Linked DNA regions of Homo sapiens: all the other regions are linked to region 2. The links come from fine-mapping of genetic effects on gene expression. A gene starts in region 2. Each other region holds a variant in brackets. All regions are shown on one strand. Distances are between the middles of the regions.

Region 1 (7,057 bases), 120 kb after region 2:
CCTGGGAGGCGGAGGTTGCAGTAAGCCGAGATCGCGCCACTGCACTCCAGCCTGGGCGACAGAGGCTGTTTATTTTATTAACAAATAAATAAAAATTTAAAAAGCAAAAATAATTTTAAAAAGCAAAAGTTAGGCTTCATAATTGAGTATCAAAGTTGAGGAATATACAGAAAGTTAAATGTTTAAGAAAAAGCATTAGGAAGGCAGAGTTTATTTCCTGAATATGTTCTTCCACGCGCAGATCTCACTTTGCACTCAGAAAACAATCCCCAGAGAGAGTATTTCAGGAACAAACTTTGCTGGGGTTTTCTGTCTGTTTTAAGGGGCTCTTTCTGTTCAACTTCTCCCTTTTCTACTTCTAGAGAAAAACCCTGGGGCCTGAGTCTGTGCTGGGCATCTCTGCTGGCCTCTTGCCCTTTGTCCTTCTCCAGTGAGATTTTTTTTTTGGGGGGTTGGGGGGCACTTCCTTGGCCCCAAGGACGCCATCCCTGCAGGCCCCAGTGAGTCTCAGTTCCCCTAGCCCAGGGAACTCACCAGTCCCTTGAAAAGGACCCCAGCACACTTTCTTAAAGGTGCTGTCCCCGTCCCACCAGGATCTCAAAATGTCCTACCACTGGTATGAAGACTTGGACTCAAGTCGTACAAACCCATCTTTATGTTTTTCTCAGATGTGGGCCCTGCACGGTGGCTCACATCTATAACCCCAATACCTTGGGAAGCCAAGGTGGCAGATGGCTTGAGCCCAGGAGTTTAAGACCAGCCTGAGCAACACAGTGAGATACTGTCTGTACAAAAAAACAAAATAAAATAAATTAGCTGGGCACAGTGGCACGTGCCTATAAGTCCCAGCTACTTAGGAGACTAAGGCAGAAGGACTGCTTGACCCCAGGTGTTGGAGGCTGCAGTGAGCTATGATTGCTCCACTGCACTCCAGAGAGGGCAACAGAACAAGACCCTGTCTCTTAAAAAATAAATAAATAAATAAATAAATAAATAAAGCAGATCTGACAGTTCAGGAAGTTGGTGAACGAGACTGGGGATCCGGTGCTGACCACCACGGGCGACCTGCTGGAAGTTCAATTACATGTTGTTACTCTGTCCATCAGAAACAGGCAGGGCACCCCGGACATGCTGGACACAGAGAGTGCACTGATCACAAAAAGATTCTAAAATCACTTCTGAGGTTAAACATCAATTCTAAGTTCATACAGTTCTGCCCAGACACGATGGCTCATGCCTACAGTCCCAGCACTTTGGGAGGCCGAGGTGGACGGATCACCTGAGGTCAGGAGTTCGAGACCAGCCTGGCCAACATGGTGAAACCCCATCTCTACCAAAATATACAAAAATTAGCCAGGCATGGTGGCGTGCACTTTTAATCTCAGCTACCCAGGAGGCTGAGGTGGGAGAATCGCTTGAACCTGGGAGGCAGAGGTTGCAATGAGCCAAGATTTAGCCATTGCACTCCAGCCTGGGCAACAGAGCGAGACCCTGTCACAAAAAAAAAAAAAAAAAGAAAAGAAAAGAAAAAAGAAAAAAAAAGAAAAGAGAGAAAATATAAGTTTTATTTCATAATTTAAAAATACATCAGCAAGCAGCACTAACAAATAAACAACTGTGCACAGAGCCTTATGTGGTATTTTGCTGAAAGGGAAAACGTTCCCACTATTAACAACGATGGGGTTCTGTCTTAGAAAGGACCCTAAGGGGCCGGGCGTAGTGGCTCACACCTGTAATCCCAGCACTTTGGGAGGCCGAGGTGGGCGGATCACAAGGTCAGGAGTTCGAGACCAGCCTGGCCAATATGGTGAAACTCCATCTCTACTAAAAATACAAAAATTAGCCGGACATGGTGGCAGGTGCCTGTAGTCCCAGCTACTAGGGAGGCTGAGGCAGGAGAATAGCTTGAACCTGAGGAGGAGATTGCAGTGAGCTGAGATTGCACCACTGCACTCCAGCCTGGGCGACAGAGCGAGACTCCAGCTCAAAAAAAAAAAAAAAGAAAGAAAGAAAGGACCCTAAGGACCCCATCCAACACTACTTCCATTTGAAAGAATGCTCCTCCTCCTGCCTCCTCCTGCCTCCTCCTGACAGGTCAAAGAATGCTCCTCCTCCTGACAGGTCAAAGCCACTGGCAGAGACTTTCAAACTCATTCCCGTAGGGATCACACTGCGGTCAGGCATGGCCGGGGAGCTACAGTCCCTCAGTCCCCGCGGTCCCGCTGAGCTTCGCAGGGAGGCAGCTGCGGCGTGGGGGCAGCAATCATAAGCCAAGGTGCCAGGGCAGTCACAGGGAATGGGTTCCACAGGCCTGGTTCTGCTCCACAAGAGGCCACATCCAGCACAACCACAGAGCAAGCGACCCCAGAGGACCCACAGGAAGATCTTCAGTGCCTAAGCCAAGAGGCAAGCTCAGCCATCCCTGCACTCACTCAAGCCGACGTGCACATCAAACCAGCTTCCAGGGCCAAGCGAAGTTCCCGGTGCAGCATCGTGCACTGAAGAGCACCTGCCATCCGCTCAAGGTCAAGGCTAACACGTGAGCCCAACCACAGTGCAGAGCAGAACTAGGTCAGGCTGGGGCCGGCCAAGGAGCAAACCAAAGCCACTGTCACATCCCTGCAGGACTTCTCCTTCCCCAGAGCAGTCGGCGACCTGGCAGGGCCTAACCTGGCCACTCAAATGCTTGGAAAGATGCCACCATGACACTGCGAGGTTGCCAGAGCACCAGGAAGGGAAACAAGTGTCACCTACGAGCATCAGAGTCACAAAGTTTAAGGACAGAATTAGCTCTCTGTGGAAATTAAAGAACAGAAAGGTCTCCCGGATCAAGGCTGGAGGATGGGAACATGAAATCATGGACAGCAAGACAAAGCCTGCTGTGACATGAACGGACCCAGGGAGAACCTGGTGTGAGATGCCTGCACCTCCGTGTGGCACTGAGGGGGAGGGGCAGGGGCTGAGGGACAGGGGCGCAGCTCTCTTCACCCAGCACCTTCTAAGCCCTGGGGCAGGAGTGACCAGTCAGGGCCTCTCTGACACCTCATCCCTCCCTGCGTGTCCAAGCCTAGCGTGGGCAATGCTTCTCAGCTAGCATTTCAGCCTTGACACATCCACTTTGCAAACTCAGCCCATGCATCACCCGGACGCCTAGAAGCCCTCACCCCACTGACACC[C/T]AGCTGGCCACCAGGCCACAATCTCGTTTCTTTTGCAAAAAAACAAAACTTAACTAAAACAAAGACTCAACATTTCACAGCTTCAGAGCTGAGCTTAGACTCTCCCATGGCACTGGAAATGTCATCTGTCCAGTGTCGTCCCTATGGGCCACAGGTGGCTACAAGCACTTGAAACGTGAGGGAGAACTGAATGCTGGATGCTAATCAGCTGAATTGACTTCACTTCAACAGCCACCCACGGCAGTGGCGCCCATCCTGGACACAGCGTCCCGGGGCCCCATGGGGCTGAGCCATCATGGGACCATGCCCTGCCTGTGACCAGCCCCACCAGAGGGTGGAGGAAGATGGAGGCGGCGGCAGCAGCGAGAGCAGAGGGCTTTGCCAGCCCCAGGCGCAGGTCCAGGCCTCTGCGAGGAGACGCGGGAATGGCAGCCGGCCCCGCGCCACAGCTACCTCTCAAACACCAACCCCACAACGATGGAGGGCCGTCAAGGACACCGCCAGGCCAGGCCCCATTCCTCCTTCCCAGACCTCCCTGGATTGCTCCGTCTGTGCTCACTGAAACACGCCTTCTGCCAATTGTCGAGGAAAAAAATCAAGCCTTAATATTCCTGTCATTGTAAAAGCTTAACGGTTATTTTTACAGATTTTGTATAAATTTAGAACCAAATAAACAAGTCATATGCCATTCACAACAATGACCTTTTTTAACAAGGGGTATGTGCACGGCTGTCTGTCCTCGTCACCATCTGCAGCCCGTCACGAGTGAGGCACGTACGACTGGCCGCTCAGGCCTTTGCCCTTAAATGCACTGTGTTTTGGTGGCAATGGGATGGAATCAAGAGTGACCTTTATTGAACACTGGTTCTTGATCCTTTAGCCAAATAAGGTTAAGTCCAACTGCATCAGAAGCTCCAGGAGACAGCCCTTCTGAGCACAGAACCAGCTGGCTCTAGGTCTGCGCTTTTTAACCTGAACAACCTCTCCGCCTTCTTCAGGCCTGTATGGTTCTTCTTAGCGTGGGGCTCTACGTGGCTCATCACAAACCAGCTCCCTAACACCACACAGAATGTAACACGCCTTAGCTGAAGAACAGGTTTCAGGCCGGGCGCGGTGGCTCACGCCTGTCATCCCAGCACTTTGGGAGGCCACGGCAGGCAGATCACTTGAGGTCAGGAGCTCAAGACCAGCTGGGCAACATGGCAAAACCCCATCTCTACTAAAAATACAAAAAAATTACAGGTGGCACATGCCTGTAGTCCCAGCTACTCAGAAGGCTGAGGCACAAGAATCACTTGAACCCATGAGGCGGAGGTTGCAGTGAGCCGAGATCGCGCCACTGCACTTCAGCCTGGGCGACAGAGGCAAGACACCGTCTCAAAAAAAAAAAAAAAGAACAGATTTCAGCCCTTTATCCTAAGACACCAGCGTGGACACACGAATGGCTCAACCCTGACTCGGGAAGGCCCTGTGCTACGCGTGCCAGCCAGGCAAACTTGCCAGGTGCACATGAGGACTCTGCATCAGTCCAGAATTCACGCAGGAAGTTTCTACACTGAGAAAGGCAGGTGAACCTCTCCCACTGTGCAGACAGCAGCACCCCCACTGTTTACCATTCTCCATGCCAAGAGGGTGACCTTGAGAGGCAGGCAAAGGTGAGCCCGGCTTGGTCCCAAGAAGCAGCTGTGGGGAGTGGCAAACCTTCCCACTGGGCCTCGCGGCCAGTGTGGCCCGACGTCCCGGAAGCGGAGCCTAGCGCCCCACTCACCACAGTCAACTCCCTCAAGTCTTGTCGCTGACTTAACTGCTTCCTGTGGAATATTAATTGCCAAAAATACACCACGCACCTCGAGGAACATTACCTTGTAATGCAGTACGATGTATTTCCAAACACACAAGATGAATGCAAGCGCTTCCGTACAAAAACATGTGTTTTAATCAACCTTCTCCTTATGCAACACAATAAAAAGCTGTTCCAATGCGGCCCACGAGACTGGGTGGGAAGGCAATGGACAGGGCGCATGCCCCACAGCTCACGGGCGCCCTGCTCTCAGAAAGCCATGCCGGAGGGCAGGGAGAGCACTCCAAGGGCAGCAGCAGTCCAGCCAGCCCCCGACCCGCCGCCGCTGTGTATCTCTGATGATCAAAACCAACGGCCCCGAGAGGAGCCCAGCCTGCGGCTGCAGCTAGAGGAGAAGGAGACACCTTGTACCCACATCTCACAACCCAGCAAGGGCCACAGCAGGCGGAGGACGCGGTGAGGGAGTGGGAGGAAAATTAAGACAGCAAAGGGAAGTGAGTGACCCAGGTGAGAGGCTGTTGTCCTGCAGGGCTCCCGGCCTTCCCCAGGGCACCTGCCCAGCCAAGGAGTGGCTGGCTTGCTGGAGTGCGTCCTTGCCCTCTGGCCGCCTCCTTCTCTGTGGCCTCAGCTCCAGGCCCTCCTCACCATCGTGCCCATCTTCATCCTGTGCAGCCCTAATGGGGTCCACTGTGCTGAGAAACCTGTCACCCTAACATCAGACCTGCCCACGTGGCTGCCAACTGTGCTTCCTGAGCACCTACAGGCAGGGCTTCAAACCAAGGTCAGGGAAAACCACCAATCTCTAACCCCCCTACCCTCTGCAAAAAAAATTTTTTTTTAATTAAAAAATTTAAAAAAACAGGAAAAAAAATTTTTCGTTCATTTTTTTCCCCAGAATAATGACCCACATTATTCATATTCATGAAGTTCTCAAAGGGGTCCTTGATCTAAAAAAGGGTCCTGACCCCACCGTGGGCCTCCAGCACTTGGACTCCCCGCTGAGGACCCACCCCAGACCCTCCCGAGCTTGTTAAACACATCTCTTCCTGGGCCCCTCCCGGGAAACCCAGGCTCAGTGAAGCTGGGGCTGGGCCTTGAACCCACACTTTTTAAAAAGTTCCCCCAGCTTTTCTGATGAGAAGCAGGGGTGAAAACTCCATGATGTTAACCCAGGAGCCTTCTACCCTGACAGCCGAGCCACTGAAGAGGCGGAGCTGCCGGGCAGGCGCTGCGGGGCAGGCGCTGCGGGGCAGGGGCTGCGGGGCAGGCGCTAGGGCTCCTCGGGCACCTCTGCACTGGGACCCCTCCCCTGGCCCCAGCTCAGGCACTGCCCTGGCTCTGCTTCCGCTCAGGTGTTCCAGCATTTCCCACAGGTGAGACTTACTTGGAAGACGGGTGATGATTACAGCGAGACTCCCAGCTCTGCTACATCATCAAGAGAGGCCAAGCCAGAGCCAGGGCACTCGCAGGAGCTCGCCACCACAGACGCAGCCCGTGTCCTCTTTCACAGTAAGAGGGTAGCCCCACGCCCTGTGCGCACCTGACACCTGCCGTCATTATCGGAGTCACCGAAATGTCACTGAATCACAGTCCCCCTAGTTTTAAGGCAATAATGGAAGTTGCTCTCTGGCCGAGCACAGTGGCACAAGGTCCCAGGTTACAGGGGGCTCTTTCTCACGATCAGCCTTGGATCAGCCTTAGGTTTATTCAGTACAAAGCACAGGCACTCACTTCCACACCATAGTCCTCCTTCCTCTACAGCTGCCTCCGTCTTTTCTGGAACCAAAACTCCACACAACTCCCTACACACTACAGTCCTCCCTGCCTGGTGCTCCTCCAAGAACTCCCCGTATGAGCCCACAACAGGCGCTCTCTGGGCACCCCTGAAGGTTGCAGTCCCAGCGCCTTTGATAAAGAAATGTGCTCAGTGTCTGCTCAGCCAAGAGCCCCTCAGACCCTTCCCACCCCTGACTTGCCTCAGCGTCGGGGCCACAGCCCCCAGGCCCTCAGTGCGCAGGTGAGAAGTACACACCTTACACCCAGGAGAGAGGCCTGATGACCGCCACAAGCCCTGAGGGTG
Region 2 (6,699 bases):
CCGGGCGATGCCTTTTCTGGGGCTCCCCAGAGATCTGGGGGCAGGAGTCCTGGACTCTGCCTCACACCCCAGCAAGGTGCTGGGAGGTGCCCTGACAGGGGCCCCCACTTGAGGGAGGGGATGGGTTGGGGTCCTGGGAGCAACCTTGTTACTGGACCGGCCCCTTCCCTGCCAAGTTGTAGGTGGTTAGATCCCAGGGAGGTCCCGGGCCCCCTCCCTGGGAGTTCCCAGGGCCCCCTACTCCTTCCCTCCTAAAGGCTGGCAGGGTGGAGGCTCCCCTACACCCAGCTACACAGGCCCAGGCCGGGGCAGGGGCATCCAGGTGGGATCCTGGACTCTGGACTTTCGGTCGCCACGCAGACCACCCCACAGAGCTCCATGAGGCCCCCCCATTTCTGAGCACCCCAGGTTTGCCTGCTTGTCATGGGGCTGGGCCCGCCTGCACAGGGCACCAGCCCAAGCGCTTCTCCTTGCCACTTGGGAAGAAAAGGAGCTGGGTGGGCAAGAGGAGCCTCGGGGAGCATCTGTGGAGAGCCCAAGGAGCCCGGATGCTGACCCTCTCCAGATCTCCGACACTGGGCACCACCTAAGCCTGTCTGCACCCCCTCTGGCATGGGGGCCCACCTGAAACCCCCCAGGTGTGAACCCAGTGGCAGCCTTTGGGTCGGGCCTCGGGGAGTGGGCAGGCGTGAGGCATGTCACCTGCACGGGTGACTTGTCTCCTGGAGCCCTAAGGCGGTGGCCATGCTCCTGGCATGGTGCCTGGCCTGGAAGGCTTTGAAGAGCCCCAAGTCTGTGGAGGGCCTGCCCCGTGAGTGGTGCCTGGGGCTGCGTGGCCTGTGAGCTGGGCACACACAGCAAGTGGCAGAGGGGCCAGGGGCCAGGCAGCGGTGGGTCAGAGTCCTTCATTCCTGGTTAGTGTCAACCCGGAGCCTGGTCTCTGTGCTTTCCAACAACCACATGTCCCAGAGGCCGTCAGGAGCCCAGCAGTGGCCCAGCTGGGGTCACAGCCAGGGAGGAAAAAGCACCACTCCTTCCAAACGGGCTGTTTCCAGACCCTGCCTAGGCCAGGAAGGCCGGACTATCCCTTGGCCCCATCCTTCTGGCAGCAGGAACCTGCAGACCCTCGGAGGCTGGAGGCAGGTGGCAGCCCTGGGGGAAGGCGGGCTCCAGGCCTGGGGGAGGGGTCTGGCTATGGCTCAGGGTCTTCCTGGGCTCTGCCTCCATTCCTTTGAGGCCAGCCCCCCAGGGTCTGCAACTCCGGGCTGGCTCTTACAGCAGTCTGTCCAGGCTGAGGGCAGTGGGGGCCTCCTAGGCCAAGAGGCCCAGAAGCTCTCCCAGTCCGCTGGGTTTATGCAATCCTGATGAGACCTTGTCTTCCCGGCACCTGCTGTTCTGTGTCCTCCTCCCAGAGGACTGAGCTGGCCCACGCGAACAGTTCAGAACCAGCCTTGCTGCCCGCTCCCAGCTTCTCTATTTCATGGACAGGGATGGAGGTTCTTACCAGCCGGCTCCACGGAAGGGCATCCCAGCAGCCCTGAGAAAGGGACTGTGGCCTCCGATATCCCAAACCACAGCGCTGGCGTTCCTCCAGACCTCATCCCGCTGAGACAACATTCCCAGTTCTGGAGTGGGAGCCACAAGGCCTCACCCGCAGGCCCGGCCCTAGCAGGAGCCCAGCCTCCAGCCCTCCTTCTTGCTCAGCCCCCGCTTCCTCTTGGGGGCTTCTCCCGAGGGTACAGCACCCACTTGGACCCTGGGCTCTGGGACAGGAGGGTCTGCAGAGTCATCTGTTACTGATTGTGGCTGCCTGTGATGCAGCTGAGTGTGGGCGTGGGGGTGCCCCATGTCCTCAGCACAGCGGTGTCCCCAGGAGGCTCCCAAGGTCAGGAGTTCACGACTCACGGCTGAGTCAGATGTGCCTGTGGCCTACCCTCAGGGTCCCCCACAGCTGCCTGCAGGTGTGGCCGAGTAGGGTGGGGGCATTCTCAGGAATGCCACTGGAGTAGCACTGGGGGCTCAGGTGAGGTGGCTGCCCCCAGGGCTCCGCAGCAGACCTTGTCCCAGGGCTGGGGGAGGATCTGAGACCCCTTCCCCAGGGCCAGGAGTGCCCCTACTTCTCTCGGGCTGCCACTGACCCCTGCCCCCGACCCACCTCCTCTGGGGCTCCATCACCCTGGAGCTGGGTGGGCAGGGGCTCTGGATCTTGGATTGTCCCTGGAGGGCAGCCAGAGCCTGGTGGGACAGAGGCTCCTCCACGGCCCTCCCCTGGCGAGCCACCTCCTTTTACCCTCCCCTCCACTCCCAGACTGGGCAGCTCCCTCCTGTGGATTCAGGACAGGACGTGTTTGGGGGTGGGGTGCCGTCTGACCTGTTGCAGGGAGGAGGACTACGTCACGGGCGGGTGCCCGAAAGATGCCCAGTAAATAGGAGTAAGAAATGAATGATGGACAAACTTCCTCTTGCTTTACTAACTTGTGTGCTCTTGATTGACCCTGGCCTTTTTGGCCTCAGTTTCCCCATTTGTAAATAGAAGAGGTGGCTGGGCTGCGCAGGACTCAGAAAGACAAGGAGACAGGCTCGCTGGTCCATTTGGTGATGACTCACTGGAACCATGACAAAGACAGCAGGGGTGGGGGTGTGCAGAGATGAGCTGCCCCTCTCCCTGCTCACCTCCCCAACCCCCTGTGTGTAGCCCGGCTGGGACAGCCCCCCCGCCCTCCATACGCTCAGCTCCTGCCCCAGCTGCCTCCTTCCCAGTCCGTGCACCAGCAGACACAGGGTGGGGGCAGAGTGTGGGCTCTTTACCCAGCCCCTGGGCCACATTCTCTTGTCCACTGCGCTGCCCGCCTGCCTGCCAGTTGCTCCCGGGGCAGCTGTCTGCCGGGAAGCAGTGAGCCCGGTGATTAACCCTGCTGGTGCTGGCAGCTCCGGCTGACACAGCGCATTCTCAGGGCCGGCCCCCGCTCCCCTCCTGGCCAGTGCCGGGGGACAGCGGAGGCCTGGCAGCTTGGCCTGATCTGGCCGCTAGGAGGCTTAAAGTGCTCTCCCCACCCCCACCTCTCCCCCTGCCCCGCCACTCGCAATCCCACCCCTCCAACCACCCGACCCTCCAGGGATCCCAAGAAGCCCTCAGGGTCTCAGGAGTCTCCACCTCCAGTCCCCCAGGCTGTCAGAGCCCCAAGCTGTCAAGGGGGAGCCCAGAGCCAGAGCACACTGCCTGGGGCCAAGCCCCCACCTGGGGACCCGCTACTGCCCAGAGGCCACTCTCTGCCTCACACGGGATCTAAAGCAGCTCAGAGCCGGACTCTGCGCCTGGACTGCAGATTCCTTGATGTCTCCGCCCCCTCTCCAGCCAGCCCCTCCCCCACTTGGAGCTTCTCCTGCCAAGGGGAGCCGCCTCCTCTCCCCCCTCCCCCAGGTGGGAGAACTAATAGTGAAGTTATGGAAGAATTGCCGGGCCGGAAAGTAGGAGGAGGGAGAGAGGGTCCCATCGCCCTCCCGACTCCGTAGAGAAAGGGCCATACACCCTCTTGGGATTTGAGATTTGCAGGAGGCCAGGGCGCCAGGAAGGTGTGCAAGGAGGTGCACCCTCCAGGGACAGCTGCTAGCTCAGAACCCCCACCAGAACCGGCTGGCCAGTGCCCCACAAACCCACCCAGCCCCCCGGGACTGTCCAGGGAACCCAGCGAGAGATGAGCCCCACAGCCCATCTGGGACCATGGCCCGCCCAGCTGGCCTGGCTCAGGGATGGGGGTTTGCTGCCAGCTCGGCAGCTGCAGCCCCACCCCGCCGCCACCCCCTCGGGGCTTCCCTGGAGGCAGATTTGGCCCCGGAGCCCAAGGGAAGTAGGAGACCCAGGGCCGCAGCCACCCAAAGGCAGACGAAGACCTGATCTCGGCCTCTAGGTCCTGTGCTGTTTGCCAGGCGTCCTCGAGCCGCCGATCGTGGCAGGAACGCGTGCGCGGCTGTGCAGCGGGTTGGAGGCCAGGCCGAGAGAGCTGGTGGAGTCCACCGGGCCCCGGAGCACAGGTGCTTCCAGGCACCCAGCAGGTGCTCAGCAGCTGTGACCAGAGCCCCCGACCTCCTTAAGAGCCAATTTGGCGGCTGTGGGGCCATGAGCACCGCCCCCGTCCTCTAAAGGGGGCTGCAGCTGCAGGCCAGTCCCTCCTGCCCCTATTTCCCTATCTGAGAGTATTTTTAAGCCCTGCTGGGGCAGGCGGGAGCCAGGCCGAGTTGAACCTGACCTGGCTGCCCCAGGAAGCAGGGGGTTCCCACCTAGGCTGCCCCGTTCCTCTGCAGATGGTCATTCGCGGGTGCAGAGGGCACCTTCCCGCAGCCAGCAGGACGGACGCTGTTGGGGGAGGAGCGGGGGCAGCCGAGTGGTGCACCCAAGTTAGGGGAACAAAGAGTGGGCCCCTGGGCTGGGAGGAGCTGGTGGGCGCTCTGGGGGCCAGGGCGTCGTGGGGAGCGCTAGGGTCCCACCCGGGACCCGGAGCTACGACCTGGGCTGGGGGCCCGGCGGCGCCGTCGTCCCACGGCCTGGCCCGAGGCCAGCAGGTGCCCCTTCCGGGAGGCGGCCGGGCCGGGGTCCGAAGGGTTAAGGCCGCCCGGCCGCCCCTCCCCCTCCTCTCTCCTTCCCCCCCCCACCCCGCCTCCCCGGACCTCTCCCCGGGGCTCGGGGCTCGGGCGCTCGGGCGGGCCGGGGCGGGGCCTGACGTCCGCGGGCGGAGCGAGCCCTGCCGGCCGCCTGGCTTCAGACCCGCCGGGCTCCCGCCGCGCGCGCTGTCCCTGGAGCTCGGGGACGCGGCCCGGAGCCGGGAAGATGGCGAAGCGGCTCTGCGCGGGGAGCGCACTGTGTGTTCGCGGCCCCCGGGGCCCCGCGCCGCTGCTGCTGGTCGGGCTGGCGCTGCTGGGCGCGGCGCGGGCGCGGGAGGAGGCGGGCGGCGGCTTCAGCCTGCACCCGCCCTACTTCAACCTGGCCGAGGGCGCCCGCATCGCCGCCTCCGCGACCTGCGGAGAGGAGGCCCCGGCGCGCGGCTCCCCGCGCCCCACCGAGGACCTTTACTGCAAGCTGGTAGGGGGCCCCGTGGCCGGCGGCGACCCCAACCAGACCATCCGGGTGAGCGCAGGGGCGGGCCGTGGGGCTTCCTCCCGGGGCACTCGGACCCGGAACACCGGCCCGACCCCAGGGGGAGCGCCGTGGCCCGGGGCGAGTCCAGGTGCGGACTCTCTGGTTCCGCATTTTGGGGGCCCAAGAAGGCACCCCGACCCGGCCGCTCCGTCTCGGCCGGGAAACTTCGCGTCCCTCCGGGAAGGCGGAATTAAAGTCCCCGGCATGGACCCGGGGGCGGCTGGGCGCCGGTCCAGTTCGACTGCGGTGACCGGGGCGGGAGGGGGGCCGGGCCCAGTCCCTGGCGGCCCCAAGTCCGGGATCCCGGGGAGGGCGGGACTTGGCCTCCGCCGCCTGCTGCCGGTGGGGAGGGGGCGCAGCTCCGCCCTACCCGGGACAGGCTGGAACCTGTTGGCCTCTGGATGGGGTGGGAGGGGCCAGCCACCTGAGGCTCCCACTAGCCCCTCTCGGAGGAGTCTAGGGACTCGAGGAGACCTCCAAAGTAGGGGAGGGCCAGCTGCGAAGTTTTGACTGGGGCTGGGAACACGTGGCTCCCAGGAGGGGCAGCATCTCTGCCCAGCAGGTGGTAGGGTCCGGGGGCTTCAGTCTCCCTGGGAGATGTGGGTTCAGGCCCTGAAGACCCCCTGGGGTGCATGTCCCCTCCCCAACAAGCCTTAAACCTGTAGGCGGGTTCTGTTGGTGGACTCCATGCATGGACACCTCACCTGAAAACCAAGGCTCTTGGGGCCCTGTAGACTTAGGTTGGGCCTGGGGTCAGCCTTGGGTGAGGAGCAGCAAAGTCAGCTCCAACGGCTCCCAACCGGCCGCTCTAGGCCCATTCCCCACCTCAGCCCCACCTTAGGGAGAGTCTAGGGGCCCTGAGGGCCTGTGTAACCTGAGCTGTCTCCTCCCTGGTACCTCTGCCTTCCCGGAAGGAGAGGCTGGGGCAGGGGCGAGTAGCTGGAGATTTGCTGGGTGGGGGCAGAGGGCCCTGGAGCAAGACGTTATGGGGATGAATGGAGGAGCCTGGGCTGGGCCCGCCCCCTCTGCCTGCCCCACCCCCTTGGCCCTGGTGGAGGGGGAAGGAGCCTCCCCAGGCTTCTGGGCTCACCGTTCTCTCCTTAAGCCCAGCACAGTCCTCTGAGATAGGAGGTCTCAAGCCCACACTTCAGATGGGGGATCTGAGCCCTGGAAAGCTGCTGACACCTGCTTGGAGCCCCCCAGCCAGAACAGGGTCCAGCGGGGGTTAGCTGTGGGAACCTGGGTGCCTCCTGGCTGCCCCCTTATCTGGTCAACTCAGAGGGGCCGGGTCTCAGGACGGAGGGCCTGTGACTGTCTCCTTACCTGCTGCCACACCTCACCACAGAGGGCCTGGCTGAGTGTCCCCAGCTGAGATTTTGCCGTTCTGGCAGGGGAGGCTCCAGGTGCCCTGTGAACCTCAGACCACCCCCCCACAGCCTGCCCATGCTGCGTGGCTGGGGGCCACAGGCCCCCTCTCAGATCTGTCTCCTCTGTGGGGGCTTATTACCCCCGTCTCGTGAGTAAAGGGCCAGCCTGTAGTCAACGCCCCTCTCCTCTGCCTCAGC
Region 3 (5,000 bases), 29 kb after region 2:
AGTTTCACTCTGTCGTCCAGGCTGGAGTGCAGTTGCACGATCTCGGCTCACTTCAACCTCTGCCTCCTGGGTTCAAGCGATTCTCCTGCCTCAGTCTCCCGAGTAGCTGGGATTACAGGCACCTGCCACCACGCCTGGCCAATTTTTTGTATTTTTAGTAGAGACGGGGTTTCACCATGTTGGCCAGGCTGGTCTTGAACTCTGACCACAAGTGATCCACCTGCCTCGGCCTCCCAAAGTGCTGGTATTACAGGCATGAGCCACCACGCCTGGCCAGTTTTCTTCCTCATCTTAAGTCAGGTTTGATTATTTGTATTAGCAAATTGTGTATTTTGTTTGGATTTTTTAATGTATTGACATAAAGTTATGCACAGTGGCCTGTTATAAAGTTAAAATTTCTGTTCATTTCTATTCTCGTCTATTTTTATTTTTATTTTCTTTCTTCTTCTTTTTTTTTTTTTTTTTTTTTGGTTGATCAGACCTAACAGAGGTTCGTTGAGTTTATTGGTCTGTTCGAAGTACAGGTGCAGTTCTCTTGATAAGACCTGCTGAGGTTTTTCTTTCTTTAGTTGGGAGGAGAGATTTTCCTTTCTAATATTCAATTTCTTTAATCCACTTTCTTTGATTTATCACTTTTTTAAAATAGCTTCTTGAGTTATTATTTTTAGTCTGTCTTCATTCCCAACAAAAAGGCTTAAAGCAGTGGTTCTCAGCCAGTGGTGACTTTGATGCACAGGAAGCATTCGATGATGTCTGGAGACATTTTTGGTTGTGACGATTGATGGATGTAACTGATCCAGTGGGTAGAGGCTAGGGATGCTGGGAACCTCCTACAACACAGGACTGCTCCTGCACACATAACAAAGAGTTATCCAGCCTGGACTGTCAGTAGTCCTGAGGCTGGGAAACTCTAGTTTAAAGCTATAAATTTTCCTCAGAGTATACCTTTGGCTAGGTATCTTGTAGTTTGAGATGTGGGGTGTCCTCATTGCTGTGTTTTTTTTAAATAGTCTATCATTTGGGGTTTTATTTTCTTTCAACCCGTCACTGTTCAAGGTGCTGAGGTTTCCCTCCTGTCCTTTTCGTGGTGTGCAGTTCTGGTTTTGCTGCATCGTGGTTAGACTTGGCACACTGATAGTTTCTGCCTTTTGTCTTTGGAATTTGAGATTTTCTTTGTTTCTAACCTAGAATGTGACGACTTTTATTTTTTAATTTTATTTATTTATTTATTTATTTATTTATTTATTTATTTATTTTGACACAGAGTCTCACTCTGTCACCCAGGCTGGCGTCCAGTTGCACGATCTCGGCTCACTGCAACCACCACCTCCTAGGTTCAAGCGATTCTCCTGCCTCAGCCTCCCGAGTAGCTGGGACTGATTATAGGCGCCCACCACCATACTTGGGTAATTTTTGTATTTTTAGTAGAGATGGGGTTTTACCATGTTGGCCAGGCTGATCTCGAACTCCTGACCTCAGTTGATCCACCCACCTCAGCCTCCTAAAGTGCTAGGATTACAGGCATGAGCCACTGCGCCTGGCAGTTTCTGCCTTTTGTTTTTGGAATTTGAGATTTTCTTTGTTTCTAATCCAGAATGTGACCACTTTTAGATTGTTCCAGGAACATTGGACAGGAATGTGTGTTCTCTATGGAGTACCGATTTGGCATGTTAAAGCAGACTTGTGGCCAGGTGCGATGGCTCACGCCTGTAATCCCAGCACTTTGGGAGGCTGAGGTGGGCAGGTCACCTGAGGTCGGGAGTTCGAGACGAGCCTGACCAACATGGAGAAACCCCGTCTCTACTAAAAATACAAAATAAGCTGTGCATGGTGGCGCATGCCTGTAATCCCAGCTACTCGGGAGGCTGAGGCGGGAGAATGGCTCGAACCCGGGAGGTAGGGTTTGCAGTGAGCTGAGATGGCGCCACTGCACTCCAGCCTGGGCAACAAGAACGAAACTCCATTTCAAAAAAAAAAAAAAAAAAAAAAACAAAGGAGGCTTGTTCATTATGCTCTTCAAACCCACAGTACCCTTGCTCAATTTCTGTCCCTCTGAGCTGTCACAGTCTACCTATGTATCTCCATCCAGTCTTTGTCTCTCTCTGACTCTGGTTTGCCAAATTCTCCTTGCCATTTTAATAGTTTTAGCTTCCCTCACCTCCAGGACACGTTACCTGCTCCTAGAGATTCGTTTCTGCTGCCCGTTGGGTGACATGCCTGAGCTTCCCTCTGTCTCGTTACCGCTGTGCCTTCCGTCCTCACTCCTCTGTGTTTGCGTCCACCCCAGCTCCCTGCACACAGCTCTCGGTTTACCACCTGTCTGAGGCGTTGGTTTAAGGTACGCTCTTTCAAGAGGCTATGGCTGGAGTTTCCTCTTGGTCACGCTGACGTCTTCGGTTTTTATCTCATGAAGGAGACAGCGCAGCCCCACGATCGTCCTTGCCTCTGTCAGTTCTGGCTGGCTCCTGCCCTTGTATCATTTCTCCTTTTCTGCTGAAACATTTCCTTTCCTGACTTTCACAAGTTAGAGCAAGAAAACGTGCTTTGATTTTGGTTTTTGCTACTGTTTCCTCTCTGGGGAGGGTTTGCAAGCTCTCTTTCTGTGTTCTGGTCTGACCAGTGGTTACTCTTACATTTTTGACAAGTATTGAACCTTTATTTTTCTATCAGTAACAAAACTGAAGCGTGCTCACAACCCTCCTTTCATGCGTAAGTTAAGACATTTGATACATTCTTTCTACCTTCTTCCCAACACCTGACATTGTTTCTAAAGAAACTATAATTTTAATCCCAGCACTTTGGGA[G/C]GCCGAGGCAGGCGGATCACGTGGTCAGGAGATGGAGACCGTCCTGGCTAACATAGTGAAACCCCGTCTCTACTAAAAATACAAAAATTAGCCGGGCGTGGCAGCGTGCACCTGTAGTCCCAGCTGCTGGGGAGGCTGAGGCAGGAGAATGGTGTGAACCCGGGAGGCAGAGCTTGCAGTGAGCCCAGATCGTGCCACTGCACTCTAGCCTGGGCGACAGATCAAGACTCCGTCTCAAAAAAAAAAAAAAAAAAAAAAAAGAAACTATAATTTGTTTTGCAGCTTGTTTTGAGTTTTGATTTGTTTGTATTTTCTCTTTGTGTTAATGCTTGCAGCTAACTAGGAATCTACGTAAGAAATAACTAATGAAGCGTTTTGATAGTTGGCCTGACTTTGTTGCACATCACTGTTTTCCCAAACACGCCTCTCCCTTGTTGGAATTTTTTTTTTTTTTTGAGACGGAGTCTCACCCTGTCGCCCAGGCTGGAGTGCAGTGGTGCGATCTCGGCTCATTGCAACCTCCGCCTCCCAGGATCAAGCGATTCTCCTGCCCCAGCCTCCCAAGTAGCTGGGATTACAGGGGTGCACCACTACGCCCAGCTAATTTTTGTATTTTTAGTACAGACAGGGCTTCACTATGTTGGTCAGGCTGGTCTCGAACTCTTGACCTCATGATCTGCCCGCCTCGGCCTCCCAAAGTGCTGGGATTACAGGCGTGAGCCACTGCACCCAGCCCTTGCTGGGATTTTTATTATTTTATTTTCTAGTTAGTGTTGTGTAAAAGTGTAAGAAAATGAGTTTGTGGAGAGGGAAGGTTTGCCAGGAGGGGCGTACTGGGGTCTGCAGGGCATCTGAGACTCCCCTGCCTGTCCCCACCCTCCAGATTGTGACTGCAGCGCGGCAGGGACCCAGGGCAACGCCTGCCGGAAGGACCCAAGGGTGGGACGCTGTCTGTGCAAACCCAACTTCCAAGGCACCCATTGTGAGCTCTGCGCGCCAGGGTTCTACGGCCCCGGCTGCCAGCGTGAGTCCCCTCTCCCCGCTCAACCTCTACCTGCGCTCGAGGTGGACACCTGAGGCCTGGTGCCTCTGACCAAGCATGTGGGCCACCCTTTCCTGCAGCCTGCCAGTGTTCCAGCCCTGGAGTGGCCGATGACCGCTGTGACCCTGACACAGGCCAGTGCAGGTGCCGAGTGGGCTTCGAGGGGGCCACATGTGATCGCTGTGCCCCCGGCTACTTTCACTTCCCTCTCTGCCAGTGTGAGTGGTGCCTCTCCACGTGGGCGTGGGTAGGGGAGGCCCGTGGGCCTGGCCTACCGTGACACCCGCTCCGCTCTGCAGTGTGTGGCTGCAGCCCTGCAGGAACCTTGCCCGAGGGCTGCGATGAGGCCGGCCGCTGCCTATGCCAGCCTGAGTTTGCTGGACCTCATTGTGACCGGTGCCGCCCTGGCTACCATGGTTTCCCCAACTGCCAAGGTGAGCAGAGGGTCAGGGCAGGAAGGGGTTCTGCCACCCACATGGCGCCAGGGCCTGACCCCATTGTCCCTCTGCAGCATGCACCTGCGACCCTCGGGGAGCCCTGGACCAGCTCTGTGGGGCGGGAGGTTTGTGCCGCTGCCGCCCCGGCTACACAGGCACTGCCTGCCAGGAATGCAGCCCCGGCTTTCACGGCTTCCCCAGCTGTGTCCGTGAGTGCCTAGGGAGGAAGTGGTGGGGAGGCAGGTGCAGTCTCCACTGCGTGCCCACAGCTATCCTTGTCTGCAGCCTGCCACTGCTCTGCTGAAGGCTCCCTGCACGCAGCCTGTGACCCCCGGAGTGGGCAGTGCAGCTGCCGGCCCCGTGTGACGGGGCTGCGGTGTGACACATGTGTGCCCGGTGCCTACAACTTCCCCTACTGCGAAGGTGAGCAGGCAGGTGGCTGTGTGCACCAGGTGCCGGGCCTGTGTGTGGGTCTGTGCTGTTCACACGCTGCCTGCCTTCCTGTGAGGCTGTTCACGTGCATCTTGCTGTGTGTACTGCGACTGCGTCCCCACGCTCTGTGTTCGCACCTTGTTCACATGCCGTGCAGGGGTGTCCGCGTACTGCCCGTGTCTGCGTGCTGTGCATCCGCGCCTGTCGTGTCTCGTATGGGTGCATGTGTTGCGTTCTGTGTGTGTACGGGTGTCATGTGTTGCTTGTGTGGGTGTGTGTGTCACC

Evidence for each region. PIP is the estimated chance that this variant, and not a neighbour inherited with it, causes the effect.
Region 1: its variant is the best candidate, but not a certain one, in a credible set for the expression of LAMA5 in whole blood (INTERVAL, PIP 0.75).
Region 3: its variant is the best candidate, but not a certain one, in a credible set for the expression of LAMA5 in whole blood (INTERVAL, PIP 0.83).

The regions. Positions count from the first base shown.
Region 1 is chr20:62,242,614-62,249,670 of GRCh38, reverse strand. All of the region lies in intron 1 of OSBPL2 (oxysterol binding protein like 2), which reads right to left. Among named protein-coding and RNA genes, the nearest start is that of OSBPL2, 7.6 kb to the right of the region's middle. RefSeq lists enhancers at 4,662-5,269, 5,270-5,878. The variant C/T (reference allele first, on the strand shown) is at 3,177.
Region 2 is chr20:62,365,372-62,372,070 of GRCh38, reverse strand. LAMA5 (laminin subunit alpha 5) reads left to right here and starts at 4,759. Exons shown (of 80, transcript NM_005560.6): 1 at 4,759-5,122. The coding sequence starts at 4,826. RefSeq lists enhancers at 359-1,056, 2,457-3,156, 5,255-5,954, 6,653-6,699 and a silencer at 4,636-5,075.
Region 3 is chr20:62,337,296-62,342,295 of GRCh38, reverse strand. LAMA5 (laminin subunit alpha 5) reads left to right here. Exons shown (of 80, transcript NM_005560.6): 12 at 3,688-3,828; 13 at 3,927-4,064; 14 at 4,146-4,280; 15 at 4,358-4,492; 16 at 4,569-4,706. It overlaps LOC124904946 (a long non-coding RNA gene), which reads right to left and starts at 2,322. Exons shown (of 2, transcript XR_007067699.1): 1 at 2,175-2,322. RefSeq lists an enhancer at 2,133-2,262. The variant G/C (reference allele first, on the strand shown) is at 2,805.